4 linked regions of the Homo sapiens genome follow. The protein of the gene in region 2 interacts with the protein of the main gene of each other region in a pairwise test. Each region holds a gene or a part of one and is shown on either strand. Other genes may lie near its edges.

Region 1 (7,798 bases), on a different chromosome or scaffold from region 2:
CTGAATTAATGAATTCACTTCTTGTCCACATTTGGAATCTAAAACTCTAGTCAATGTTACTACCACAACATTCTCACACTTCTCTTTCTCCGTACTATTGAGAGCTTTATTATGCCAGAGATGTCTCACAAGCAGGATGCCAAGATCAATGATCTGTCCTGAGCTAAATGAGGACTGTCTTTCCTAGATGTCAGAGGATTGAGGTGGAGTGTAAGAAATACTCAATTGGGAACCAGTCATTAATTGATAGTTCCTTGATCTCTTTTGGTCTGGAGATTTCTCATTAGTAAAATGAGCTAACCGGACTGTGTCAATTACTTTTCAAGCATTTTGACTGTGATCATGATATACTCTCACTATGAATGTATATGTATGTATATATCTTGAAAAAACTTTCACTGAATTATTCTTACAAACAAAATGGAATGCATCTGGATAGTTTCTATTCTATTCTTTTTTAAAAATAATTCTCGTTGTGGTCACAACCTATTAAGTTGATTTGAAGAACTGCTAAAGGAAATCTGCAGCAGTTTGAAAAATACTTTCCCACGTGACCGCTGAGTCATTCATTCATTAACTGTAGTAGGTCAGTAATTTTCCAACTATTTAATGGACATCTATGTAGTGCTAGGCACTGTGATGAGAGTTAGGAAAATGGCAATGAAAAAATGAAGACCATCTTCTTATGACGCTTATATCCTGTGAAGTATGTTCCATCAGCTTTGACAAGGAAAGAGAATTCCAACGGAATCAGCTAAAGCTATTGAATAGGTTTGACTTAAGGGAGGAAAAAGCAGCAGAAATACAGGTTTTTCCAAACCCCAGGCAGGAGCCCACATCAAGACTAAAATAGTCTAGACCCAAATGATGTAATTTTTGTGTCAAATGAAGATCTCCTGTGGATCCTAAATCTAATCACTGGATGTTTCTCCTTTTCCCATACTTTGCAAAGATCGAAGTGGATGACTGGGCCCTCTTTTTAGATAAAATATTTCAGAGGCCATGGAGTGATGGAAAGGAATGCTAGAGAGCACTCTGACTGAGGGACACCCCCTGGCCATATTCACGTGCTCACCACACCCCCAAGTACCTGCAAAACCTGCAGGTATGTAATTGGTTGTTTTCTTTTCCAGAAATTTTGCTGTACCATTTTTACCCAGCAGAGGGAAGCAGAACACCAAATCACTGCAGAAGTAATCCAGGACACATGCACACACAGCCCTTTGGTATTTTTTGTCCTGTGAATTTAGGTATTATAGAATGAGAATGTCACAGTTTTGAAAACAAATTCTGGGTAAAGTCAGCTCTGGGCAAAATGCTGAAAGAGGAGAGGTTTATTTTAGCTGACTGCTTATGGCCTGTCCCATCAGGATTGCCTGGAAGACATTACCCAGCCCACAAGGCCCTCTTTCAGGCTTGGCTCCTGGCAGTCTGACCTTTCAATTTTTTTCCATTCCCCAAGTTTTGGAACACCTGCTAAAATCATGCAATATTTCTGTGGTCTTCTGAGTCAGGCTTTATGCAATGGCCTTTCAATCATGGCATTTCCTACTTTAGCTGCCAGGAATGGTCAGTTTCCTGCCCTCTTTTATATATTCCACTAAGTGGGAAATGGTGGGTACAAACTGAAGTGCAATGCATGCTAAGTGGTCATGTAGACTGGAGTGCAGTGGCATGATCTCTGTTCACTGCAACCTCTGCCTCCCCGGTTCAAGCGATTCTCCTGCCTCAGCCTCCTGAGTAGCTGGGACTACAGGCATGTGCCACCACGTCCAGCTAATTTTTGTATTTTTAGTAGAGATGGGGTTTCGCCAGGCTGGTCTCAAAATCTTGGCCTCAAGTGATTTGCCCACCTTGGCCTCCCAAAGTGCTGGGGTTACGGGCATGAGCCACTGCACCCGACTGGGATACAAACTCTTAATCACAGCAGACCTTCTGAGGATCCAGGTACCTTTCTGAAGCCCTGCCTTTCCTCCCGCCCCACTTCTTTACAGACTTGTCCCTGTGCCTTTTAACACTAATGCAGTACGTCTGACTTCCCCTCCTCAGAGATGATAGCATTTTTAGGAGGCCATAGACCAACAGAAGTTGTCTTCATGCATTTCTGGGGTCCGAAAGTAGTTAAAACACACCCCTTAGCCATTTAACTGGCGTGCTTTTCTGGAAAGAAAGGCATGAGCAGAGGGCACTCCTCAAATAGAAACAGATGCGATAATGGACAATAGGCTTAGGCATGACTCAGCCTTTCCAGCTCCACACGCTCCTTCCCTACCCAACCCAGGAATATAGATCCAAGTGCAACCATGCACTTAGTCAAGAAGAGCTCTTCAAAGTGTGTCCTAATGCCATGAAATTTACTTTTAATAAGAGAGTGGGTAGGGAGGGATCATGGAACTTCTAACAGTTTAAGGTTATCATGAAGAGTCAGCAAAAATTACAGTAACCAGTGATTCTGGGTAATCAGCGTCAATGAGGTGGAGAGAAGTGGGAGAGGTGCCTTATCTTTGAAAGGTTAAACTTGCCATCTTTTTTTTTTTTTTTCCTTTTTTTGAGACGGAGTTTTGCTCTTGTTGCCCAGGCTGGAGTGCAATGGCGCGATCTCGGCTCACTGCAACCTCTACCTCCCGGGTTCAAGCGATTCTCGTGCCTCAGCCTCCCAAGTAGCTGGGATTACAGGCATGCGCCCCCATGCCCAGCTAATTTTGTATTTTTAGTAGAGGTGGGGTTTCACTATGTTGTCCAGGCTGGTCTCAAACTCTGACCTCAGGCGATCCACCCGCCTCGGCCTCCCAAAGTGCTGGGATTACAGGCGTGAGCCACCGCACCCAGCAAACTTGCCATCTTGACATATTCCTCCAGTGACTGGCATCCATCCTCAGTTGGTGTCTAAGGTATAATACAACGGACAGGTACTTTAAAAGTTTTCAGTAACTTCCACAATGCTAACCAATGTTTGAGGAATATGATTACATTTATTTTTTTAAAAAATAAGCAAGTTTTGTAAAAAGCACCAAAGGCAAAAAAACTTCATTGAAGTTTTTAAAAAATGTATTAAACTGCTGCATTAAGGTAATGTACTTACAGAAAAAGAAAAAGAGGTTTAAAAAAGGACAAGAACAGGAAACAGATGTAGTAAGGGGAGAAGAGTTAGAAAGGAAACTCTCTGGGCAGGGTATGGTAAGCAGGCATCAATAACTGCCTCAGGTGCCACTTAATGCATTCATGTCCTGGGCCTCCTGAGCGTCACACAAATTAGTGAAACCCAACAGGGGGATTTGCTCTGACAAGCAGCAATAAAAGTAAAGCTGCTGTCTGTATTGGCAGTAAACTACCTGTGACACTGAGATATGCCTTCTGTGTCTGGCTTATTACTCTATCATGTTCCTAAACTGGCTTGTCACAAACGCCTGTTACAAAAATCAGATTCCTGGCCTCCATGTCAGACCTAATGAATCCAAATCTCTCGGCACGTGGGTTTTGATTACTTTTTATTTTTAAGCTCCTCAGCAATGATGGATAGCTTTCTCCCCCCCCCCCCAAAAAAAATGTTTCAGGAATAGGATTATGTTTCTTTTAAGAAAAAATAATTTAAGCAAGTTTTGTAAAAAGCATCAAAGGCTATACCTATGATGCTGACAATATTTCACCTCACTTATCTGCTTCTTTCCCAAGACTTAGTCTTTCTCTTTGAAGGAGCTGTGTTCCTCCTAGTGGTTCTGATCTTTTTCATTGCAGCTGCAGGTACAAACGAGGGATTGAGGTGACCACCCTTCAACCTGCAGCTCTTCAGTCAACAAAAATCAAGTACCTATCAGAGTGCACCCTGCCCTGCAGCACATATTCAAGGCTTTCCCTACAAAAACAAAGGTGTTTAACCGAAGGGATTGATGGTAGAATAAAGAGAGCTGGGCGCGGTGGCTCATGCCTGTAATCCCAGCACTTTGGGAGGCGAGGTGGGCGGATCGCTTGACCCCAGGAATTCGAGACCAGCTTGGGCAACATAGTGGGACACTATCTCTACGGAAGGAGGGAAGTAGGGAAGGAAGGAAGGAAGCAAGGAGGGAAGGAGGGACGGAGGGAAGGAGGGAAGGAAGGAAGGAAAAAGAAAAGAAAGGAAAGAAAGAAAGGAAAGAAAGAAAGAGAAAGATTGATTTTAAAAAAGAGTTAAAAGGGGAAAAATACAATGTGGCAGTGGGAGAATTAAGGATGAGATGATTGCATTAGTTCATTGACCATCCCTGAGCAACAGAAACACAATCATGGGTAATCCTCGGCCCCTGCCTACAAGAAGCATGGGTCTAGTTTAGTAGCACTGCCAACTGGACCGACCATTTACACTTCTGTGTGAAATGGGGCAGAGGGGGGAGAAAAGAGTGCCTGAGCTCACAGCGTTGGCGGGGCGCAGTGAGGTCCGCCAGGACTAGGTGGAAGGAGAGAAGGAACGTCCCTCTCTGCAACTCATCTAAGGGCCTGCTCGGACCCCGGATCTCACAGCGAGAACTACCGCCTCGCTACACCCGCCTTTCCCCGCGCCACCCAACAGCTCCCACGTCTCATCCTCCGGGAGCGGGGCGGGGCGAAGCGGAAGAGGAGGGGCCGACACAACCACGCCCACTAGCCGCGCTCCAAGGCCGCGGCCCACTTACCGCGAGAACGCGGAGTCCTGCGGATGGCGCACGCGCAAACCTCCTGTGATGCCTGCGCCTCCTGGCCCCGCCTTCCGCTCGTGGGAGTTCCGGATGTTTAGCGTTACCATGGATCCTGGAGGTGCCCGCGAACACTGCTTGTCGCCTGGGCAACCGGAGAGGACGAAGCAGGACCTAGGTGGCGGCGGTGGTACCGGCTGCAATGGTGTCCAATCCCGTGCATGGCTTGCCCTTTCTTCCGGGCACGTCCTTTAAGGACTCTACGGTGAGCAGTTATCTGCCAGACTCCCACCTGTCCCCACCTTCCAGCAGCCCAGGAGGTTTCCCCGCTCAGTGCACCTCCATTCCCCTCCACTCAAGTCTGTCTTCTCTCCAAACACGTCTTCTGTCCTGACCCTGTTCTTTATTCTGGGCCGAACTTCTGCCGTTCTTCCCTAGCCATCCTCATCCCCTCTCTCCGATCCTTTGCCCTCCGCCTCATCCCTCTCTAGTTTTTTCCCACTCCATCTTGGCAGTGTGTTGGCGCCTTCATTCTCATCCCGTTAGCCGCGTTCTTTCTTACGGCCCTGCTCCTCCAAGCCCCTGCCTCTTGTCCCTTTAGATCACTGTTTCCCCCACCCTACTCCCAACCTATCTCTGGGCCCTCTCCCTAGCTCGTTCTCTCACATCATAACCTGTCTCCGTCCATCGCCGCCCTTAAAACCCCCCGCCACTATGCACCTTCAACCTCATTCCCACAGGTCCGTCATTCCCGCCCCACCTCTTCCTCTTCTGAATCCTGTACCCGGTAGTATCTCCCACTCCCAGCTCCATTTCCTGTTTTGTATGTATATCGATTCCGCTCCTCTTCTTTCCGCCAGGTCTTTTTCCTTTCTTCTTTATGCTTGCATCCAACCCCATTCTTTTTTCTCCATCTTCTACATTTTCCACAATTTAGTCCCATCCTCTCCCCATTCCTTTCTTTCTCCGTTGCGGGTTTTCCCCAAAACTTGCTCACCTTCCTCCCAAAGCATCTTTCCCTGCTTTGTAAGAGATATTCCTTTCCAGTTCCCTCAAGAATTGATTAGTTGCTGTTTATTCTTCCCCGGCCCTGTTCTTTTTATTCTAACGTTTTTGTAAAAAGATTCCTGTTTAGATTTTGTTTTGCTCCTTCCCCAACCTTGTGTTTTTATTTGCATTTTCTAGACAAAATTTTTTAAAAAGTAGCAGCAGCTTGGATTCTTTTTTTTTTTTAAACTCTTGCCACAGTTTAGCTCTTAAAATTATTTGGTTTGTTTTAATTCTGACAGGGCTACTGAAATGTATGTGCTGAAAAATCAATAATGAGATTCAGTAGACTGATCATCATAGATGAGCTAACAGTAGTTTATGTTTATATAGTTTAATACTTTAAACTCTTGCCTTCCTCTCCAGCTTCACAAAGTTAAAATATTTTGTCAATTTATTTTCTTTGGAAGAATCAATTTAGAATGAAATCGAAAGTTTGGTGAGAGAATTTGTATTCTGAATCTCTGTAATTATCCCTGCATTAAGACACAACATCATAGATTTTTAGTTTCAGTGGACTTTTCAGTTTTATGTAATTTAGAAAATGTTGTAGGCACTTGCCTGCCCTATACAGGATGAGCTTAAGCTTTTGGTGTTGGTGAGTATAGACAGGGCTGAGTTGATACAGGGAATTACAGAGGTGTGGATGGAAGTGCAAAGCTCTAAAAACATATTGCTGTATTACAAGTAAGAAGAACTGTGCATTGGACATATTTCAGATTTTAAATACACTGGCCAAGTGTCAACCAATTTGCCCTATTTGAAATTTGAAAAGCATCGTCAGTATATCTTCAGCAGTGAAGGACTGAATATGTATTAATGTAATTCTAAAGACATGCAGATAAGAAGTTAAAAAATTTTTAAAGGGGAGTGGGAAAACGATTTTAAAAAAAGACACACAGAAGGTGAACCATAATGGACAAGAGGGGTGGAAAGGGCCGAGGTTGCCTTGCCTGGGGTGTCTGTGAGTTATGGCTGAATGATGGTAGAGACATTTGTCTAAAACAAAGAAATAAACTGAAGTCACTGATGTTGCTTCTGTCTTTGGTGGTGGAAGAAGAGCTTGAAGTTCCATAAATTACCCAATGAGGATGTCAACTCAGCGCATTTTGTTCTATGTCATGTTTACTATATACCTGGAGCAGTCCCTGTCAACTGACTTGTGACTCTGAATACATGACCTTTAAAAACAAATGTCATACATTTGTTTTTATGGGTTATATACAGTTTATAACCCTTTTAGCAAAAGAAGTTTATTCTGTTGTACCTTTCATGTTAGTACAGATCTTGAAAGATGGTAGGCTGGGCTCTAAAGCAATTAGGATGTAGAAAGTTTTTTTCATAAAAATATTTTTTATGATTAATCTTAAATTGTATCTATGTATATATTTGAATATTATAGATAAGTAATTGTGAAAGTATCCTCACAACAGAAAAAGGAAACCATTAACATAACCTCTAATTTGCCTTTCTACTCTTTTTTATTTAATCTTTTAAATAAAAATGTGTTCATTGTAAAAAATCAACATAATTTAGAAATGTATAATACAGAGGACCAAACCAGTCTCTTCATGCACATATTTCCATGCTTATAATTGCAGTACACATATAATTTTATATGTTGCTTTTTCAGGCTTATTAAATCATAAATATTTTCACCAGGTTGCCACGTGATCTCTAAAATCAATATTTTAATGACAGCACCATAATCCATTGAGTGAGTTTTCGATCATTTACTCATGTCTTCATATGACTGTCTTTTAGATTGTCTTCAACATTTACCATTGTAATGGGCAGCTTCAGGCATATAGTTCTTTCTCATAATTCTGAATCATATTCGTAAATAAATGGTCGGGGTAGAATTATTGAGTTCAAGACTTTAAATATATACCATCCAGTTGCTTTCCAAAGAGTTGTAAGAATGTATCACTGTCATTGTGACAAGAGGGACAGGTAAAAATAAATTCATTCCATGTAAAAATAAAATTCACAGAACCGTATCTTCTAGGTTCTACAGTTTTTACGGCCCCAGATATCAGATGAAAAACATGAGAAGACTAGTGAAAAACTTAAGAGTATAGATGAGATACTCTTTTAATCTCTCA
Region 2 (7,851 bases):
ATAGAGACAGGGTCTTGTTATACTGCCCAGGCTGGTCTCAAATTCCTGGCCATAAGCGATTCTCCCACCTCAACCTCTCAAAGTGCTGGGATTACAGGCATGAGCCACCTGGCCGAATCCAGGTCTTTTGACACCAAGTGCCCTATTCATCCCTTTGCCCTCCCCTAATCTCTGGGCAGATTTGAGTGAGGCGATAGGCTGGGGGATATGGCATTGGGATACTGGGGTTGCACCTGAGGAGAAGCCAACAGCACCAGGGTCAGAATGGGCAAAGGACATAAGCACAGGCAAGGCCATTCCTGGTGGGGCTGGGCCAGGGAGCTGAGGGGCTCCTAGAAGGGCCAGGTTCCCCGACTTCTCTGAGCTTCAGCGCCTGGAGGTTTCTGGGCAGCCACACGCTTCTCAGCGCTGACCCTTCCTCTTCCTTTATCCTTGGAAAATAACCCCTAGGGCACAAACCCAACCGAAGCAATGATACTAAGTGTCAGGGCATTCCTCGACTCTCCCACCCCTGGGGAAGAGGGCCTGGCCCAAGCCCTGAGAACCCGTTCCCACCTCCACAGGCAGTGCCAGGGACTCCAAATAGGGTGCTGAAATTCCAGAAGTCTTGATATCAGACTGGGTCCTGCACCCAGCTGCCACCCGCATCCTCCCCCTGCTCCGCAGCTGCCTCTGAAGCTTGTACCCTTGCCCCCACCTCTTGTCTCTCTGCAGTCTACCTGACTGCACTTTCTGATGACCCCCACTGACCTCTCCTAGCACCCCATGTTTATTAATTACTTAAACCTAAAGTATTTACGGAGCTCCACCTATGTGCCAGATGCAGGGCTGGGCAGGAGGATTCCCATTCCACCCCAGATTCCTTTTCCTTTGGGTTCTACCCCAGATCTCCCTCTGTCTCAACAGCTCTACCCTTAACTCAGCAGCCCTGGGATTTCTCCTGTGGGAGGGCCCCCTGCATGGGTATACCCTCCACTGAGAGTAGCTGAAAGGAGCCCAGGGGAGCCTCCCAGGCGATCCCTTCCTCCCTCCAGCCCACCCCACCACAGGGCCTTCTCACTGTCTCCAACACACTGGAGTCACCCTCAGTCTTTAAAGAAGAGGATGGGAATCAGTCTCTCCCTGTTTTGTGTATAGACCCCATCCTTACACCTCAGTTGCTGTTCCGAACACCTCCCTCCTCCAGGCTGAGCAAGGAATTTCCAGCCTAAATGTTAAAGCAAAGGCGGAAGGACTGCAGGCCTTCCAATCCTCCCTAATCCTCTCATCTCTCCACCACCTAGTTTCCCCAGAGCCATCAGCTCAAGCCCTTTGTGGGAGAATGTGGAGTGGGCAGTAAGAGCTGACCCACCCCTATCGGGTCATCTCTGAGTCTACTCTGAAGTTAAACCTGCCTCACAGGTTCCCACTCCCCTTCTGCTGGACGCTGGAATGCAGGACTGATGGTGGGTGGAGAACCATTTCCCCTCTTTCCGGATTCCCCCCTGCCGAGGCTCATTACTCTTTGTGTCTGTTCTGGGAGCTTCTCACCAGGGCCCCTCCTGCTCCACCCTTTCCCGGGACTGTCCTCACAATCACGCCATCCCCCTTTCCACCTTGCTTCCCACCCCCACCCCAGAACCCTAGTGCTGGGAATCTGGAGGCCGAGACCTTCACCCCAGCTCTCCAAGAGGCTCTCTGACAAAGTGAAAAAGCCCTGAGCCACAGAGGAATCTGGAAGTGGTGGAAAGGGGCAGGCTGGTGCTGGAAGCCCGAGGTCGGTATTTGCCCCATGCTGCAAGAAGTCAGGAATGTGGCCATCGACATCAGTAGGAGAGATAAAGTCTAGCTGGCAGCTCTCCCTCTCCAGCCCCCACGCTGCACCTCCACAGGTCCCAGAAGTTTCCTAGCAGTTGGGGTGGGGCAGGAATCAGACAAGGACCTGGGAATTAGCTTGGAGAAAAATTCTAGAATCTGTTTTGATTGCTGGTAGATTTCAAAGTGCCCCAGGGTTTTTAAATGACTCAGAGAGACAGACTTCAAACCCCTTGAGCCCGTCTTTCGAATTAAATTGACCCCCTTTATCTGCCCTCCTGTATATATTGAAGCCTTCCTTACTTTGAAGGAAGGCTCCAGTACAAATAATTAGTATTTGTTTGATGAATGAGTGAGTGACAATTTACACTCACATTCACTGCCACCTGAGGAAATAGACTGGACAGGTCTTACTGTTTTCCCTGTACAAGTGAAGAAATTGAAGTTCAGAGTTAGGTGACTTCCCCAAGGTTACACAGCTAGCAAAGTATCCAGGCTGGCTGACTTAAAGCTTAGCAATAACAGTAAAAGGCAGTACGTAGCTTGTTGACTCCACATACTTTATTATAAAATACTGCCCAACTTGACAGTTCTGGAATCCAGTGGGGGAATATAAAGGTGAAAGCAGGAGAGACCCCTCTGACTGGAACCTCTTACCTCCCAGAAGCCTTGTATGCAAAACCAGTGGGCATTCATTTGTATGTTATTTTGCATCCCGTTTGCCTCCCAGCCTTCAGCAGGCCCCGACCCTCCCCTGGCCAGCTTCCACCCTGACTGCCCCCTGGCTGGCTCCCATTGAGCACTGTGGGGCTCTCCCCACCATTAGGTGACAGATCAGGAACAATCCAGGCTCAGGCTCTTTATCTGTGCTCTGCCTCCCACCTGGCAGGTCCACTGGCCAGGCTTTTCCAGGGTCCCTTCTCTCCCAGGTCTGCCCTACTATTTGTCCTCCCCTTCCCCCTCAGCTGGTAGCTCGATAAGAATCAATAGGTCCACTCCAGAGCAAAGAACACAGCCAAATGTGTCATACCAGGCCCTGCCAGAAAAACGAGCTGCTGGAGCTGACAAACTTGAAGGCCAAACACCTAAGGGTTCCCCCCAACACTTCATTCAGCAGGGATGGTCATTCAGCTTCAGGGGGCAGGCAGCATGAAAGCCTCCCTACCTCCATCCTTCTCACACAGAGGCTGGGGAGAGCATCTTGGAGGATGCAGTCCCCTGGGGCCAGGCTTCTAATCCAGACAGCCCTTACAAGGGGGGACAGGGGAAGGACTGGCTTGGAGAAAAGTCCTAGAAAAGAGGGGAGGGGCACTGGCCACCAGGGCTGGGTCGCTGCTATGATGGTCCTAGGAGTGCCTGCCTGTCCTCTCAGGCCCCATGCGATGTAGGACACATTACTTTTATTTATTTATTTATTTATTTATTTTGAGTCAGAGTTTCGCTCTGGTTGCCCAGGCTGGAGCGCGACGGCACGATCTTGGCTCACTGCAACCTCTGCCTCCTGGGTTCAAGCGATTCTCCTGCCTCAGCCTCCTGAGTAGCTGGGATTACAGGCACACACTGTGCCTGGTTAATTTTTGTATTTTTAGTAGAGAAGGGGTGTCACCATGTTGGTCAGGCTGGTCTCAAATTTTTTTTTTTTTTTTTTTTTTTTGAGACAGAGTCTTGCTCTGTTGTCTAGGCTGGAGTGCAGTGGCATCGAACTCTTGACCTCAAGTGATCCACCCGCCTCGGCCTCCCAAAGTGCTTGGATTACAGGCATGAGCCACTGTGCCCGGCGATGTGGGACACATTATCATCTCTGTGAGAGATTTTTGGTCTCTTTTGTCACCGCCCTTCTCTCCCAGCTCCTAGAACTGGGCCTGGCTCACAGTAGGTGCTGAATGCATACTGGTTGAATTGTAAATGCTCAGGATTTGTTTAATTAAGGATGCAGGAAAGGTGATATACCGGTGTGCAGAAGTCAGGATGCATTCCCTGTCCAAATCACAGTGTTCCACTGAGGCAAGGCCCTTGGGAGTGAGGTCGGGAGAGGGGAGGGTGGTGGAGGGGGCTCAGAGACTGGGTTTGTTTTGGGGAGTCTGCACCTATTTGCTGAGTGAATGTATGTGTGTGTGCATTTGAGAGCACACCTCTGTATGATTCGGGTGTGAGTGTGTGTGAGGAAACGTGGGCAGGCGAGGAGTGTTTGGGAGCCAGGTGCAGCTGGGGTGTGAGTGTGTAAGCAAGCAGCTATGAGGCTGGGCATTGCTTCTCCTCCTCTTCTCCAGCTCCCAGCCTTTCTTCCCCGGGACTCCTGGGGCTCCAGGATGCCCCCAAGATCCCCTCCACAAGTGGATAATTTGGGCTGCAGGTTAAGGACAGCTAGAGGGACTCACAGGCCATTCCACCCGCACACCACCAGACCCCCAAATTTCTTTTTTCTTTTTTTTTTTTTTTTTTTTTGAGACAGAGTCTCACTCTGTCGCCAGGCTGCAGTGGCGCGATCTCGGCTCACTGCAACCTCCGCCTCCCAGGTTCAAGCGATTCCCCTTCCTCAGCCTCCCAAGTAGCTGAGACTACAGGCGTGCACCATCACGTCCGGCTAATTTTTTGTATTTTAGTAGAGAGGGGGTTTCACCATGTTGGCTAGGATGGTCTCGATCTCCTGACCTCGTGATCCGCCCACCTAGGCCTCCCAAAGTGCTGAGATTACAGGCGTGAGCCACTGCGCCCGGTCAAGACTCCCAAATTTCAAACTCGCCAGCACCTCCTCCACCTGGGGGAGAAGAGCATAATAACGTCATTTCCTGCCCTGAAAGCAGCCTCGAGGGCCAACAACACCTGCTGTCCGTGTCCATGCCCGGTTGGCCACCCCGTTTCTGGGGGGTGAGCGGGGCTTGGCAGGGCTGCGCGGAGGGCGCGGGGGTGGGGCCCGGGGCGGAGCGGCCCGGGGCGGAGGGCGCGGGCTCCGAGCCGTCCACCTGTGGCTCCGGCTTCCGAAGCGGCTCCGGGGCGGGGGCGGGGCCTCACTCTGCGATATAACTCGGGTCGCGCGGCTCGCGCAGGCCGCCACCGTCGTCCGCAAAGCCTGAGTCCTGTCCTTTCTCTCTCCCCGGACAGCATGAGCTTCACCACTCGCTCCACCTTCTCCACCAACTACCGGTCCCTGGGCTCTGTCCAGGCGCCCAGCTACGGCGCCCGGCCGGTCAGCAGCGCGGCCAGCGTCTATGCAGGCGCTGGGGGCTCTGGTTCCCGGATCTCCGTGTCCCGCTCCACCAGCTTCAGGGGCGGCATGGGGTCCGGGGGCCTGGCCACCGGGATAGCCGGGGGTCTGGCAGGAATGGGAGGCATCCAGAACGAGAAGGAGACCATGCAAAGCCTGAACGACCGCCTGGCCTCTTACCTGGACAGAGTGAGGAGCCTGGAGACCGAGAACCGGAGGCTGGAGAGCAAAATCCGGGAGCACTTGGAGAAGAAGGGACCCCAGGTCAGAGACTGGAGCCATTACTTCAAGATCATCGAGGACCTGAGGGCTCAGGTAAGGGGTAGGAGGGACCTCAACTCCCAGCCTTGTCTGACCCTCCAATTATACACTCCTTTGCCTCTTTCCGTCATTCCATAACCACCCAACCCCTACTCCACCGGGAGGGGGTTGGGCATACCTGGATTTCCATCCGCGCACCTAGCCACAGGGTCCCTAAGAGCAGCAGCTAGGCATGGGAGGGCTCTTTCCCAGGAGAGAGGGGGAAGGGGACAGGGTTGAGAGCTTTACAGAGGAAGTGGACAGCATGGAGGGAGGTAAGGAAAGGCCTGTAAAGAGGAGGAGACACTGGCTCTGGCGGAATGGGGACTATTGGAGGGTTAAGCGGATGTGGCTAAGGCTGAGTCATCTAGGAGTAAACAAGAGGCCTTCCTTTGGGAGGAGCCAATCCAGGGTGTAGGGGGCCCAGAGTGACCAGGTGCACTAGGGAAAAAATGCCAGGAGAGGGCCAGGAAGAGGACTTGTTAGTAGCGACTCACTTCTGGGCAGGCAGGCCAGCCAGCTAGCCAGCCTGCTGAGGCTTCCCAAGAGGGGCAGAGTGCTGGGATCTGGGAATCCAGGAAAGGAGGGAATGGGGTGGGGCTAGATGAAAAGGGATAGGTGTCCAGGGAGAGCCTCTGGCTATTCCTGGGACCAGGAAGTTTTCACTAGGATACATAACACTTTTTACACACTCACCCCACCCATCCCTGGCTTTCTATTCATGGAACAACCTCTCTCTACAATCCCTCCAGATCTTCGCAAATACTGTGGACAATGCCCGCATCGTTCTGCAGATTGACAATGCCCGTCTTGCTGCTGATGACTTTAGAGTCAAGTAAGTTTGGGGGCTAGAGAGCTGGGGGTCCAGGGGTGGAGCTAAGAAGGATCTGCTCCCCAGGCTGGGTCAGTTAGGGGCTCACAGTGGGATCCTGTTAGGTGTGGGTGGATGAGAGTCAGGGTCCATCAGTGTATTCATTTAACTGTTCATTTGTATAACCCCGTTTAAGAATACTGTCCTCCAAGTGCCAAGAATGGTGCTCAGGGGATTACCACCTAATTGCTGACTCAAGTTGCTGGTTTGCAATGGGCACAGAACTTCTCTTAGTAGGTGGCATGAGTTGAGAAGGTTCTGGATCAGAGATAGGGGCCCCTCTGATCACCTCCACTCCTATAGGTATGAGACAGAGCTGGCCATGCGCCAGTCTGTGGAGAACGACATCCATGGGCTCCGCAAGGTCATTGATGACACCAATATCACACGACTGCAGCTGGAGACAGAGATCGAGGCTCTCAAGGAGGAGCTGCTCTTCATGAAGAAGAACCACGAAGAGGCAAGCAGGGGCCACTGGCCAGGCCAGGGATTGAGGGGCCAAGAGAAGTCTGGGTCGGAGAATAGACAAGACAAACCAACTGCAAGTAGCCTTGCTAAGACGTTTAGAAATAGCAGCCTGGGCTCTTCTTAAATAAGACCGTTCTGATGAAGAGCATTCTCAGGGGGTCGAGTACACCCTGGCTCACCTGAATTACAGGTCAAAATGATATGGGTTAGAAAATGAGATGAGAACAGAAGTAGAAGCAGCTAACACTAGGAGCTGGGGGTGATAAAGGAATGACAGCAGATGGAGTTGGCAGCGCTTCCTAAAAGATGGTAGAAGGAGCAGGTTTGTGAAGGGGAGGGTGGATAAAGGAACAGGGTGAAGTTACAGAGAAACCATCAGTGAGTGGGTGGCATTTCTACCCACTGGAGTAGAAAGGCCAGAACTGGCATTGCCCTGAGTGCAAGCCAAGGGGTTCCTCCTGTCTCTTCTCCAACTGTAGGCCTCCTAGAAGAGGCAATCACAGAAGAAAGGCCTTGTTGGAGCTCTGACCCTGAACCCTCCTCACTTTTGCCCCTGTCACCTTTAGGAAGTAAAAGGCCTACAAGCCCAGATTGCCAGCTCTGGGTTGACCGTGGAGGTAGATGCCCCCAAATCTCAGGACCTCGCCAAGATCATGGCAGACATCCGGGCCCAATATGACGAGCTGGCTCGGAAGAACCGAGAGGAGCTAGACAAGTACTGGTCTCAGCAGGTGCGTGAGGGGAGGGGATGGCTGCCAAGGTGTGGGAGGGAGGCAGACGGAATGAGGGGCCTGATGGACTGTCCCCATCCTGCAGATTGAGGAGAGCACCACAGTGGTCACCACACAGTCTGCTGAGGTTGGAGCTGCTGAGACGACGCTCACAGAGCTGAGACGTACAGTCCAGTCCTTGGAGATCGACCTGGACTCCATGAGAAATCTGGTGAGTGCCTTCACATCACCTGCCCAGCTCCTCCTTCACTTGGCCTCAGACCCAACCCTGTCTCAACCCAAATCCTATCCCTCATATCATGAGTTCCTTTAGCTCAGAAAGAGTCAGTTTCCTCTTTGCATTTCCCTCCACTCCTATCCCTTATCCCAGTACTTGGCACATAGCAGGTGCCCAAAAAAGTTTCCAAAAGTGAAGGGATGAGCAGTCCTGGGACTCTGGGCTCACCCTGCCCCTCCTCTCTGTGCCCCTGCAGAAGGCCAGC
Region 3 (7,021 bases), on a different chromosome or scaffold from region 2:
GCCGGCTCCTTATCTCCGAGTAAACATTTCAGTCCTAATAAACAGGAGAGACACGGGCGTCAGGGCTCTGTCGATTCCCATCCTGATTTAGGACCTGCCTCCCTTCTTACCATACAATAGGAGAGTGTTTTAAAAAATGTTTTTATTGAGCCAGTAAAAGCTTTCCAGGAGGGAGGTGGGAGAGAGGAGGGGGCCTGGCAGACACCAGGCCAAAGGGTCTGTCGGGAAGGCTGGCAGCTGCCCCAAGCCCATCAAGCCTTCCTGAAGCAGACACAGGCCTTCCCCCTGGGGGGCCCGTCCATCCTGCTCTACCTGCAGAACTCCTATTTAGCCTTCGGGACCCAAGTCAAATGCTCCCTCTGCTGGGAAGCCTCCTACCAAACTGGGTCTCCCTGAAGGCAGAGCCAAGCCCTGAGTCCCAGCATTTGGCATAGCTCCCTCAACTCAGAGAGAGCTCCAGGGAAGAATGGGTAGTAAGGGAGTAGGGGGACTTCCCCAGGACTCACTGCATTGCCAGCACCATCTAGTTCGGCCCCAGGGTGTGGTGGGTGGGGGTCCAGGCCCAGAGTGAGGCAGGCACAGGAGTCCTGTGCCCTCCAGGTTAAGTCCCTTTAGCCCCAGCAGCCCCTGGGGGCTCTCACTGCATTGGGGGTGCCCGGGAGACTCCCTTCTCTGCTCCCCTGAGACTGCAGCCCTCTTCTGCTCTAAATCACCGCACATTTGCCGTAAAAACAGTGGGCTCGGGCCCCAAAGCCCTGCAGGCCAGTCCCAGCCCCATCTTCTGAGCCCCAGTTGCGCCGGCCCCTCCTGGCAGGAACTCCACGCCACTACCCACACCAGGGTGTTGGCCGGGGTGTTGGCTGGGATGTTGGTTGGGTTGTTGCCTGGGGTATTGGTTGGGGTGTTGGTTGGGGTGTTGGCTGGGTTGTTGGTTGGGGTGTTGGCTGGGGTGTTGGCTGGGGTGTTGCCCAGGGTGTTGGTTGGGGTGTTGGTTGGGGGGTTGGCTGGGGTGTTGGTTGGGGGGTTGGTTGGGGTGTTGGTTGAAGTGTTGCCTGGGGTGTTGGTTGGTGTGTTGGCTGGGGTGTTGGTTGGCATATTGGTTGGGGTGTTGCCCAGAGTGTTAGCTGGGGTGTTGGTTGGGGTGCTGGCTGGCATGTTGGTTGGGGTGTTGGCTGGCATGTTGGGGTGTTGGAGTGTTGGCTGGTATGTTGTTTGGGGTGTTGGTTGGGGTGTTGGTTGGAGTGTTGGTTGGAGTGTTGGCTGGGATGTTGGCTGGGGTGTTGACCGGGGTGTTGGCTGGAGTGTTGGTTGAGATGTTGGCTGACATGTTGGGGTGTTGGTTGGGGTGCTGGCTGGCATGTTGGTTGGGGTGTTGGCTGGGGTGTTGGTTGGGGTGTTGGTTGGTGTGTTGGTTGGGGCGTTGGCTGGCATGTTGGTTGGCATGTGTTGGTTGGGATGTTGGCTGGCATGTTGATTGGGGTGTTGGCTGCCATGTTGCTTGAGGTGTTGGCTGGGGTGTTGGTTGGAGTGTTGTTTGGGGTGTTAGTTGGGGTGCTGGCTGGTGTGTTGGTTGGGGTGTTGGCTGGCATGTTGGCTGGCATGTTGGTTGGGGTGTTGGTTGGCATGTTGGTTGGGGTGTTGGCTGGCATATTGGTTGGCACGAGTTGGTTGGGGTGTTTGGGATGTTGGCTGGCATGTTGGTTGGGGTATTGGTTGGGGTGTTGGCTTGCATGTTGGCTGGAGTGTTGGTTGGGGTGTTTGCTGGTGTATTGTTTGGGGTGTTGGCTGGCATGTTGGTTGGGGTGTTGGCCAGGGTGTTGGCTGGCATGTTGGTTGGGGTGTTGGCTGGCATGTTGGTTGGCATGTGTTGGTTGGGGTGTTGGTTGGGATGTTGGCTGGTGTGTTGGTTGAGGTGTTGGTTGGGATGTTGGCTGGCGTGTTGGCTGGCATGTTGGTTGGGGTGTTGAAGTGTTGGCTGGGGTGTTGGTTGGCATGTTGGTTGGGGTGTTGGCTGGCATATTGGTTGGCACGAGTTGGTTGGGGTGTTAGGATGCTGGTTGGCATGTTGGTTGGGGTATTTGTTGGGGTGTTGGCTGGCGTGTTGGCTGGGGTGTTGGTTGGGGTGTTGGTTGGGGTGTTTGCTGGTGTATTGTTTGGGGTGTTGGCTGGCATGCTGGTTGGGGTGTTGGCTGGCATGTTGTTGGGGTGTTGGCTGGCATGTTGGTTGGGCTGTTGGCTAGGATGCTGATTGGGGTGTTGGCCAGGGTGTTGCCTGCTGCCCCTCTCCATTGAGGGACTGGCAGACTGGCAGTCCCCAGGGTGAGGGGATGGGATGTGGGTGCCAGACTGAGAGCTGTGTCCCTGGCTCCCAGGGCACACAGAGGGTGCCACTCACTGCACCACAGATGTTAATTATTTACTTCAAAGCAGGAAGCTCTTCTAGGAGCTCAGAATCTCCCATAACCCTGCCCTCGGGGGAGTCCATTCCGGTGGGGAGGCAGGCAATGAAGAACAAACACAAAACGCAAGCAGGGAATCAGGGCTGCGGGACGAAGACATGGAGCAGGGCAGTGCATCAGGGTTCTGGGCAGAGTGGCCAGGGCAGGCAGGATGGCCCTTGTGCGTGTTCGAACAATGGGTGGCTGGTCATGGGAGGGGCGCGGGTAGAGGCCTGAACTCCTGTAGGAGGGATGTCCAGGGACCCCACGGGAAGATGGGTGTGTCTGGGCAGAGTCAGATGGGGTCTAACTTGGGCAGGTAGGCGATTAGGACTGGATGAACTCAAAGGATGGTGGGAGGAGCAGGGGTATAGGGGAGGGCAGAGCACCTCCGGGGACCAGGCTGGGCTCCATTCCAGCCCCAGCATCGTCCCTACCACAGCCCCCTCCCCACCACCTCCACTGTGTTCCAATCACATTAGCAGAGTGACAGTCCCAGCAAGTGCTGGCGGCGGCTCCATAAATCTCAGCCCATGTTAAAAGGTTGGACTCCGGGCCCACTTCCTCCAGGGGCACCCGCCCCGTCCATCTCTCCATCAGTCAGGTTGTGTGAGAGGCCTGTGCCAGCCGCTCCGCACCCCTAAATGCTGGAAGGAGAACCAGAGAGACCTCTGCCATGCCTCTGAGTGGCCAGGGCAGGGCCCCTCCACTTCCTAGAGTGAGGTCACAGGCCATCTGTGAGCCACTCCTGGATTTGCCAAAACATCTTTGGTTTCCACCAGCTGCCCTTGGGTAAGTCCGTTGCTTAATGTGTAGGGTCATCTCCACCTTTACCTGTAGTTCATTCATTCAATAAACTTTTTTTTTTTTTGAGACAGGGTCTCGCTGTGTTACCCAAGCTGGAGTGCAGTGGTGTGATCTTGGCTCACTGCAGCCCCTGCCTATGGGGTTCAAGCAATTCTCCTGCCTCAGCCTTCTGAGTAGCTGGGATTACAGGTGTGTACCACCATGCCCAGCTAATTTTTGTATTTTTAGTAGAGACGGGGCTTCACCATGTTGGCTAGGCTTGTCTTGAACTCCTGACCTCGTGATCTGCCCACTTCAGCCTCCCAAAGAACTGGAATTACAGGTGTGAGCCACCGCTCCTGGCCTTAATTTTTATATTTTTAGTAGAGACAGGGTTTCACCATGTTGGCCAGGCTGGTCTCGAACTCTTGACCTGAGGTGATCCACCTGCCTTGGCCTCCCAAAGTGCTGGGATTACAGGCATGAGCCACCATGCCCGGCCCCTTGTTCCTTGTTTTTTGAGACAGGGTCTAACTCTGTCACCCTGGCTGGAGGGCAGTGGCGCAATCATGGCTCACTGCAGCCTTAACCGCCCGGGCTCAAGTGATCCTCCTACCTCAGCCTCCCAAGCTATGACTACAGGCACACATGCTAGCATGGTTAGTTGATTTTTTTTTGTAGAGATGGGGTCTTACTATGTTCCCCAGGCTGGTCTCAAATTCCTGGGCTCAAGCAATCCTCCTGCCTCGGCCTCCCAAAGTGCTAGGATTATAGGCTGGGATTACAAACATTTACTGAGCACTTATTATAAGTGCCAGCCCCAGATACAGTCTTTCATTTTCAGGGGGTAGAAGACAAGGAACACAATATGTAAGTAAATTATACAGCACATTAGAAGGAGACAGGTGCTCAGAAAAGTTAAAACCACAGCAGGGTGGGGGCCGGGGGAGTGCCAGCATGGGGCAGGGGAGGCAGCTGCAATTTCAGCTAGGGGCCAGGGTGGACCCCCCTGAGAGATGGTATTCAAGTCAAGGCCTGTCGGAGTGAACGGAGCAGCCGCGTGGACAACTGGAGCAAGGGCATTGCAGGCAGAAGGAACTGCCAGGGCAAAGGCCCGGAGGCAGGAGTGGGCGGGGCCTGTCCAGGGAGGCCAGGGTGGCCGGAGCAAAGTGGAGAGGGTGGCAGTGCGGAGGTGACTGTGAGAGGTGACTGGGGACCTAACGGGCCATGCTAAGGAACTTGGCCTAGGCCCTGAGTGAGACAAGAACCCTGGCAGGGTGGTGGGCAGAAGAGACTCGATGAGCTGATGTGGGACAGAAAGGCCCACCCCCTTTGTGATCCTTTATCTTCCTGAACTGAATGGCTAAAGATCTCGCTCCTCACAGGCTGTCTGGGATCCTGGGCCATCTCCCATCTCCCCACCTCTTGGCTGGGCTCCAGTCATTCCTGTGTCAGAGCCTCCCTCTCCTCCACTTCCAGGCCTTTGCCTGCGCTGTTCCCTCTGCCCGGGACACCCTTCCCAGCACTCTTCGCTGGGCTCATGCCTACGCATCCCTCAGATTGCAGAGGAGGCACCACCTCCTTCTAGAAGCCTTCCTGATGCCCAAGCAGGGACAGGCACTCCTCATCAAGCTCCTATGGTGCCACTCCCACCCCCACCCCCACACCACAGATCACCCTGTGTCTTGGTGGTGCTCTCATCTGCACTGGGAGCTCAGGGGACAGGGACCAGGCCCATCTGTGCCCGGCAGTACCTGTCCTGGCACCCAGCTCGGGGCCCGGCACACAGGGGTGATCAATGAACGGAGGAAGGGCAGGGTGCTGTGGGTGGGACATGCAGGTGTCAGGTCTGCAAAGTGTCCTCCAAAAGGACAGGCTTCGGAAGAGGGTCCTAGGTGGTCTGTTTTCAGGACCACAGTCCCCGGCAAAGCCCCTCATTCTGTGAGGCCTCTGGGGAGCTGTGACCTCCATGGGGACAGCTAGAGGAGAATGGGGAGGAGGGAAAACATCTCAGCCACAAACAGACCCCCATTCTGCATCCTGGCTGGTCACCGACAGCTCTTAATGCTGCTCTTATTTATTCCTGACCTTTATGCCCCTTTTATTTTTCCCCCTTTTAAAACCTGGCCTGGGCCCTGCCACCGCTGCCGTAAACACGGCCCCCGGGATTTATCCGACGGCACATTAACCCCTGGCCCCTAGCTCACCAATCATCCTGCTGCCTGTGCAGACAGCGGGCAGCCTGGCCAGCTGGGGGGCTGCAGGACTGGGCTGAGGGGCTGGTGTGGTCTGCCCTAGGTGGGCTGGCCATGGAGGCAGGTGCTGGGGGTACAGGGACACGCCCGCTTGGTATCTGTGACCTGGCCTGTATCCCTTGCGGCCAGGCCCACCCTGACCTCTGACCTCCTGCCTGCCTGGCCCTTCCAGAACCCCTGCTCCGTGGTGGTCGTTAACAATGGCAGACACAGAGACATCCCAGGGCTGAGAGCTGGCAGCTCTCTCCCTGACTTTGTGAGACCTGTCCTGGCTGCGGAGCCCGAGGTCCAAGGGCAGGGTAGAGATGATAATTTTGCCCTCACAGGTGGGGAAACTGAGGCCAAAAGGGACAGAGCTGCCCAAGGTCACAGGGAGATCAAGGTCAGGGCTGGGTTTTTTCCACCACACTTGTGGCCCCTGCCCAGTTACAGAGCAGGAGGCCTGCATTCAGAGGGGTGGGGAGCTGGCCCAGGTTGCCTGGTGGTGAGGGTGCCAGGCCTGCCATCCAGGTCTCCAGCTCTGGGGAAGGGAGGCACCCTGTGAGGACAGTGGGGAAGGTGGATTGCAGTGAGATGGGCACCGAGGGCGAGGGGCAGGGGAGGAGCAGACCCAGCAGGGGAGATGCCACACCCCACCCCCACCAAGACAGAAGGTCCACTCACCGCCACCGCCTCCGAGCAGGGAGCTGTTGGCTGCAAGAGAGAGAGACAAAGGCAGATCAGTGGGGAAGGGGCTGCGGCGGGAGTATCAGCCTTGAGGGGAGGGTGATGTCAAGATGGGAGTGGGCTGCCAGCTAGGTCTTCAGACTTGGGCACAGGGTCTTCCCAGTCCTCCGGGGCGGTAGTAGACGATGGTGAAGAGGGAGGAGGTTCTTCATGGTCCTGGGGTTTGTAGGGTGGTAGGGCTGGGGACACAGGAGAGCTATCAGGGCCTGCCTGCTCACCCGGACGCAGACGCATGGGGGGGTCCAGAGAGGCAGATGGCCCCCGCCACGGCCCTTTCATTCCTTCACTGTTTCGCCCACAGTATCTCCTGAGGCTGGTCGGCGCCAGGCCTGGTGCAGAGATGTGGGGAGGAAAGGACAGGTCCCCTTCCCCAGGGCTCACAGCTTCCGGCAGGGCATAGCCTTGAAGCCACTAGGAAGCAAACTGCACCTTTGCAACCGGGCTAAGCGCTGCCCAGGGCCAGAGCTGGAGGACTGAGAACGCGGAGCAGTGCTGAGGGGGCGCAGAAGGGGGCAGGGGCGGGGGCGTCCAACTGCGAGAGGGACAAGGCGAGCCGGGTAAGGGGCCTGGAGCGCTGCCACTGGAGCCAAAACCAGATCAACAGCGGGGTGACTGGGGCCATGTGGCTTCGTGCCTCATTTTCCCCATGTGGGAGAATAGCCCCACCTCACCAGCTGGTGTGAAGGTCAATGGAGAGGGGTCCTCAACTCTGAGCCCCGCTGCAGGAAGACCTGGGTCCCCGCCCCCTCCTTGGACTAGGGGTAGTGCTGCCAGGCAGAGCTGGACTGACGGCTTTGTGGCTGCCACCTTCCTGCG
Region 4 (7,021 bases), on a different chromosome or scaffold from region 2:
GGTACTTAATCTAGATTTTCTGGTAGAAGTGAACCTAAGTCTGTTTTTTTGTGTGTAGTCTTTTAGAACCAATCTTGTGATTTTTACCAATGTATAACCCTTCTTGAGCTAAGAAGTATTAATTTATGAGACAAATTATTGCTTCTATTTAGGTTACCTTACTCTTCAATATTAAGAATGCTTTGATGATTCAGCATTAGAAGCATATTGAATGGATTAACTTTACTTACTACCATAACTACCAAAATTGGTTATTAAAGGTAATTATACATTTTATCCCATTGTTTAAAGAAATCTTACTGAACAGTTATTTGATCAATAAACAGGAATTGTTTTATTAGTACAAGCAACACTTGCTGGTTTTAAGAGTCTTACTCATTACACTGAGGTTTCCGTCAGTACTTTGAATGGACATTATAACTGCGGTCTACTATAAATCTTACTATGACTGAGGAGGGGTGGCCACAGGGTCTGTGTTTGCCCAAAGTTCCAATTTAACATCCTAACGTGCTGTGCTTCGGGCTAAGATGGAGTAGCTTATAGTAAACCAATGCTTCCAACAAGAATAACTTGGAAAGTTGGAGTGAAAATATGTTTGAGGGCATAAGAGTTGCAAAGGTTAGTAAAGTTAAAATCATCAAAGGTATTAGCACTGTCTTGGAAGTAGTAAAAATACAAATAACTTATATTTGACTCTAGTAAGTCAAAGATGACTGTTGTAATCTTCAGGGTAACCACCCAAAGAATAGAAATAGAATGTAAAACTAACTGATGCATATCTAAAACAAGGATAGCAGAACTATATGAAACGTTGATTAATCCCAAGGAAGGAAATGTGGGAGAGAAAATGGAACATGAAGCGGATGGGATACAGAGAAAGCAAAAGTAATATCACAGAATAAGGACAAATATATCCACAATTACATTAAGTATTAATTTTTAGACTAAATACAAGAATTTAAAAAGGCAGAACTTATCAGACTAGATTTTGAAAAGTATGTGCTGTGTATATGAGACACACCAAAATGAGGACACAGAAAGAGTGACGGTAAATAGGGCTGGGTGCGGTGGCTCGCACCTGTAATCCCAGCACTTTGGGGAGGCCGAGGCAGATGGATCACTTGAGGTCAGGAGTTTGAGACCAGCCTGGCGAACATAGTGAAAGCCTGTCTCTACTAAAAATACAAAAATTAGCTGTGTATTGGTGGCACATGCCTGTAATCCCAGCTTCTTGGGAGGCTGAAGTACGAGAATTGCTTAAACCCGGGAGGTGGAGATTGCAGTGAGCTGAGATGGTGCCTGCACTTCAGCCTGGGCAGCAAAGCAAGACTGTCTCCAAAAAGAAAAAGAAAAAAAAATCAAAGTAAATAATACCATGCAGAATCTAACACGCCAAAAGATAGTGTAACTGATGTTATTATTCTAAAATCAGACAAAATAATATTTTAAGGCAAAAAGTACTACTAGAGTTAAAGAGATTTCAGAGTGATACAAATAAATCTACCTGTTGGAATTGCAATAAAATGATTAAATAAGAAGTATATATATCATAAATATACTATATATAACAGTTATATAAAAGTTATTTGTGAAAACACATATATAGTAGAACATACATGTTTTATTGGTTTTGCAAAAGACTATAAAAGTACATTTTGCCTCACTGAGATAGAAAACTTCCTTTTTTTGTTTGAGATGGAGTCTGGCTCTGTTGCCCAGGCTGGAGTGCAGTGGCACAACCTCAGCTCACTGCAACCTCCGCCTCCCGGGTTCAAGCGATTCTCCTGCCTCAGCCTCCCAAGTAGCTGGGATCATGGGTGTGCACCAGCACACCCGACCAATTTTTGTATTTTTAGTAGAGACAGGGTTTCACCATGTTGGCCAGGCTGGTCTTGAACTTCTGACCTCAGGTGATCTGCCGACCTCGGCCTCCCAAAGTGCTGGGATTACAGGCAGCAGCCACTGTGCCCAACCAGAGAACTTCTTGAAAAGATTATAAGTGCCATCTGACAGCAAGACGAAGTCCAAGTCCTAGTTGTTCGTAACACTCATAACCCTAACCGATTTTTTCACACATGTTGCTTAAGGTTGGTCTTTCAGTCAGGACAGGCTAAGTTATGCTACAGAAATAAACGACCTCCAAATATCATGGCTTCGAACTACCAAAGCTGTTTCCTACAAAGCCGGTGGGCAATCAAGAGGACTCTGAGACCACTGTTGGCTCAGCATTCCCGGCTGCTCCCATTTTACAGCACCTCCATGGTGTCATGCACTTCCACAATTACCACAGGAGAGGGAAAAACAGCTAGAGGGTCTCACATTGGCAATTAGATGTTATAGGCTGGAAGTGACACGTGTCACTTTTGTCTACAATCCTCTGGCCAGAATGAGTTATATGACTCTGCTCAACTGCAAAGGGTGCAAGGAAGTATAAACTTTCTATGTGCCCAGGAGGAGAGGAGAACTAGGCATAGGTTAGGATCAGAGGTGTCTACCACAGCTGGAAACTCCTGTTCAAATTTCTTAGGTCATGACCCTCCATAAGGTTCTGGAGCATGACAGTCCTGAAGAGAACGGGGAAGGTTTCTATACACCTAGCTGCTTCATCTCAGAGGCTGACCCCTTTTTCGCTCAAGGAAGGCTCTAGCACAAGGCTGAAGCCCTCTCAAGGATCCTCTGCCCTTTCAGTGGCGCTTGGTCATTTACCACAGGGAGTGCCCTCTGAGAGAAAAGAGAGCCAGGGGCAACCAGACCCCTCACTTGGGAACACAGAGGCAGGTAACAGTTGTCTTGAGCATCTTCTGACTGGAGTACACCTCTGACCCTGCACAGAATTAGCCAGGCAGCCTGATATTGGGTTCTGGATTGCCCTTGGCTAGTCGGAAGTGCAGGCTGCTGATCATTTATGTCTATGTAATTTGATCTAGTCCTTCACTGTTATAGTCTGCCATGACACCATGCCGGATCTGACTCCTTCAACTGGTGAAAATAATGATCCACTTGGCCCCATTCTGCAGTGAACCCTCTAGCTCTTCTAGAACTGGATAGTCCAGTCATTTCCCCAGGTCAGGCTGAAGGATGACTGATCCAAACAAGACATTTCTCTAATCTTGGGTTAGAAAAATGAGATTACGAAACATTATAGGACTATAGATTTCATAATAGGCTTGACGCATTTGAAAATTACCTTTTCTCTGTTACTTGTATTTTCTTCTTCTCTACTGGCAGCAAAAACAACTTCCTAAAATATTTTTACTTCAAAAGTTAGCACCGAGCTTAAAAATCAGATGGTAGTTTACAGCCCTCACCTCTAATAGAAGCCTTTGATGCAGTGCTTGAGTTTGCCTAAGTGCATCCCAGGACACTTTCAAGAGCAGTTCCATCTTTCTTAAATTTCGAAAATCTCGTTCTTTCTCTCTTTGCTTACGAGAAAGTTCATCATGGTAGTTCTGCTTGTCAATGAGACTGTTGCGTAAATTGAGATCCAAGATCCCTCTGTTCCAGGTAAAGGAAGAAGAAGAAAATGATTTTGTTATCAGCTGTCCTAAATGTTTTTCAAAACTTATCAAGACAGCATGCTGAATATTGGCTCCCAATCTCTTCTGGCAAAGACCTAAAAACAGAACTACCGTTTGACCCAGCAATCCTATTACTGGGTATATACTCAAAGGAATATAAACTGTTATATCCTAAAGACACATGCACACATTTGCTCATCACAGTGCTATTCACAATAGCAAAGACATAGAACCAACCTAAATGCCCATCAATGGTAGACCAGATAAAGAAAATGTGGTACATATGCCACAGACTATTATGCAGCCATAAAAAAGAATGAGGGCTGGGCGCGGTGGCTCACGCCTGTAATCCCAGCACTTTGGGAGGCCGAGGTGGGTGGATCATGAGGTCAGGAGATCGAGACCATCCTGGCTAACACGGTGAAACCCCGTCTCTACTAAAAATACAAAAAATTAGCCGGGCGCGGTGGCGGGCGCCTGTAGTCCCAGCTACTCGGGAGGCTGAGGCAGGAGAATGGCGTGAACCCGGGAAGCGGAGCTTGCAGTGAGCCGAGATTGCGCCACTGCAGTCCGCAGTCCGGCCTGGGCGACAGAGCGAGACTCCGTCTCAAAAAATAAAAAATAAAAAATAAAATAAAAAGAATGAGATCATATCCTTTGCAGGAACGTGGGTGGAGCTGGAGGTCATTATCCTTAGCAAACCAATGCAGGGACAGAAAACCAAATATCACATGTTCTCACTTATAAGTGGGAGCAAAATGATGAGGATACATGGACACATAGAGAAGAACAACACACACTGGAGCCTTTTGGAGGGTAGAGGATGGGAGGAGGGAGAGAATCAGGAAAAATAATAGGTACTAGGCTTAATACTTGGATAACAAAATAATCTGTACAACAACCCCCCATGACACAAGTTTACCTATAACAAACCTGTATGTGTAACCTTGAACTTAAAAGTTTAATAAAAGACAGCATGCTCAGTATATACACACATGACTATTCTCATGTTGGAATCATAAATTGTAAATAATGCCAAAGGCAACTAGGTTTGTGAGTTGGTATCATTTAGAACTGCAGTCTTATAACCCCCACCCCCCAAAAAAATAACAGACTGGCAGAGATAGAAGCCTCCAGTTTCCTTGAAATTTTACTTAAAAGCAGGACATAGGCTGGGCGCGGTGGCTCATGCCTGTAATCCCAGCACTTTGGGAGGCCAAAGCGGGTGGATCACGAGGTCAAGAGATCGAGACCACCTGGCCAACATGGTGATACCCTGTCTCTAATGAGAAGAAAAAAAAAAATTAGCCGGGCGTGGTGGTGCGCACATGTAGTCCCAACTACTCGGGAGGCTGAGGCAGGAGAATCACTTGAACCCGGGAGGCAGAGGTTGCAGTGAGCCAAGATCGTGCCACTGCACTCCAGCCTGGCGACAGAGCAAGACTCCATCTCAAAAAACAAACAAAAAAGCAGGACATAAAACTCTCCTAGGGAATTACACCACGAAATTGCTTCTGTTAGAAAAAAGTCAAGATGGCCTAAGAAGTATCATTCATTTGTTGGCAAAATCCCTGAACATAACATACTCCAGTGATAAATTTTCCAAAGGCACATTCAGAAACTTACAACATACAACAGATTATATCCTGAAAATCTGGTAACAGAAAATTGAGAAAATTTGAGTAAAGTATCAAAAAATACTTCAAAGTGCTTTATTTGATAATATATTAAGGGTAAAAGTTGATTTAAAATTATTTTTAAATATTTATTAACTCAACACCAAAGTGAGATTTTGAATTCTCAAATATAAATTGAAGAAAAATTTAGATGACAGAACATAACATACATAAATATAACTAACCTTTCAGTTAATGAAGTTGCTTCATTCTCTCTGGCTAATTCCAATAGCTTGACCAATTGGTTATGTTCTCGTTCTTTGATTTCAAGTAAGGCTCGTTTGCCTTCAACTTCCTTTATTACATTTTCCTTCTCATCCACTATAGCACTAACCTTGTTTTCAACTTTCTTTAGGGAGTCATTTAGCGTTTTGACTTCTTGTTCCAAGACAATTTTTTTCTTTTCCATTTCTCTGTAGGGGATACACACACACACACACACACACACACACACACACACACACACACACACACACACACACTTGCCTTATTTTGAGGCCATGCTGGCTTTACCTATTCTTGCTTTCTAACCATGCAGCAGAAGAGATAGTCATAAATTCAATGATCTCAGCAGTGGGTAAAGACCACAGATGGGTGGGACTTGGAGGGTATCTCCACTGAGTGCCACGGAAGGCAGGAATTTGCCCAGCCTCCCTACTTTCTGTGCAGATCCCAATTTGCTACCATCTCCTGTGATTCAACCCTCGTCCTGACCAGCCTCCTGAAACTGACCTGAGTTTCTCAACTTTGATGTTGGTGAGCTTAGTTTTTAGAACAGTTACTAGTGCCTGCCTAATTTTTCCCCTTAAGATTAGTCACCAGAGTAATTATATTATTTTTCCAGAATTTTTGTATCTTCACTTAAAATCTTTATCTTTTTTGGTTCCTTAAACACTGAGAATTTCCTCAATGACCTCTGCCTCCCAATCTACTCTGAATATCTGAGGAGTGTTATACACATGAATGGGTGGCAAAGTGGGGAGTTACTATTATTTGGGCTTTGGGCTGCTGCCTGGCTGATATACTTCTAGACTATGAAATTCTAACCAGTTCGCATAATTTATCCCATGCACCGCTCTGTTAAAGTCAATTGAACTTCTCCATAAAAATATGATTTATAAATTGGCAACAGAATCTTGACCCATAATTAAGCCATAAATACTATGAATGATAGAAATTTGGTGCATTACTTTCTTTTAAAGAACTTGATATAAACAACCTAGACAGGGCCCAAAGCAGAAATTTCTAAAATTATCATAGTAATTTAATGTGTCCAATGGTTAGTACTCTTGTTCTAGTGTGCACACATAACTTGGACTGGCAGGGATTCAAAGTAAAAATATTAAATCATACACTTTTTTGCGTGTTATTTTTTCTATCTCTTTTCCAATTTGTACTGGAATGGTTTGATGGTGGGCCACTTCATCCTAGTAAAGAAACGAAATCATGTTAAATTATGCGGTCTTCGGCTAGAAGCAATTAAGACAAGAAAATTAAATATGAGAGAGAAAGGAACTACAATATGTAGATACTTACCATCTGCCCTGTGTGCTTTAATTATCCCATTTAATACTCACGGTGACCTTGTAAGAGAGCTATATTTGTTATCATTTTGAAGAGGAGGTAACTGAGTGTAGCAAATACTGTTGGTCCTCTGCCCAGATTCCCTTTATGGAGGTACAGATGCTCCTCCACATACAATGGAGTGACGTCCCAATAAACCCGTTGTAAGTTGAAACTACCTTAAGTTGAAAATGCATTTAATACACCTAACCTACTGAAATCATAGCTTAGCCTAGCCTACATTCTCAGGACACTTTTATTAGT

The links.
Region 1: the proteins of KRT18 (region 2) and EFHC1 interact in binary tests that used the Homo sapiens proteins (3 or more experiments, as listed by UniProt).
Region 3: the proteins of KRT18 (region 2) and MACROD1 interact in binary tests that used the Homo sapiens proteins (3 or more experiments, as listed by UniProt).
Region 4: the proteins of KRT18 (region 2) and CCDC146 interact in binary tests that used the Homo sapiens proteins (3 or more experiments, as listed by UniProt).

Annotation. Positions count from the first base shown.
Region 1 is NC_000006.12:52,415,563-52,423,360, forward strand, and holds the start of EFHC1 (EF-hand domain-containing protein 1), read left to right. Parts: upstream 1-4,779; 5' UTR 4,780-4,848; coding exon 4,849-4,911; exon of another isoform or gene 4,912-5,419; intron 5,420-5,445; exon of another isoform or gene 5,446-5,506; intron 5,507-7,798. UniProt on the Homo sapiens protein: Microtubule inner protein (MIP) part of the dynein-decorated doublet microtubules (DMTs) in cilia axoneme, which is required for motile cilia beating.
Region 2 is NC_000012.12:52,944,277-52,952,127, forward strand, and holds the start of KRT18 (keratin, type I cytoskeletal 18), read left to right. Parts: upstream 1-4,841; 5' UTR 4,842-4,897; coding exon 4,898-5,314; exon of another isoform or gene 5,315-5,584; intron 5,585-6,051; coding exon 6,052-6,134; intron 6,135-6,473; coding exon 6,474-6,630; intron 6,631-7,204; coding exon 7,205-7,369; intron 7,370-7,454; coding exon 7,455-7,580; intron 7,581-7,842; coding exon 7,843-7,851. UniProt on the Homo sapiens protein: Involved in the uptake of thrombin-antithrombin complexes by hepatic cells. When phosphorylated, plays a role in filament reorganization. Involved in the delivery of mutated CFTR to the plasma membrane.
Region 3 is NC_000011.10:64,009,110-64,016,130, forward strand, and holds part of MACROD1 (ADP-ribose glycohydrolase MACROD1), read right to left. Parts: intron 6,173-7,021; coding exon 6,143-6,172; intron 1-6,142. UniProt on the Homo sapiens protein: Removes ADP-ribose from aspartate and glutamate residues in proteins bearing a single ADP-ribose moiety. Inactive towards proteins bearing poly-ADP-ribose.
Region 4 is NC_000007.14:77,258,595-77,265,615, reverse strand, and holds part of CCDC146 (coiled-coil domain-containing protein 146), read right to left. Parts: intron 6,622-7,021; coding exon 6,548-6,621; intron 5,608-6,547; coding exon 5,380-5,607; intron 3,496-5,379; coding exon 3,309-3,495; intron 261-3,308; exon of another isoform or gene 153-260; intron 1-152. UniProt on the Homo sapiens protein: Essential for sperm flagellum biogenesis and male fertility.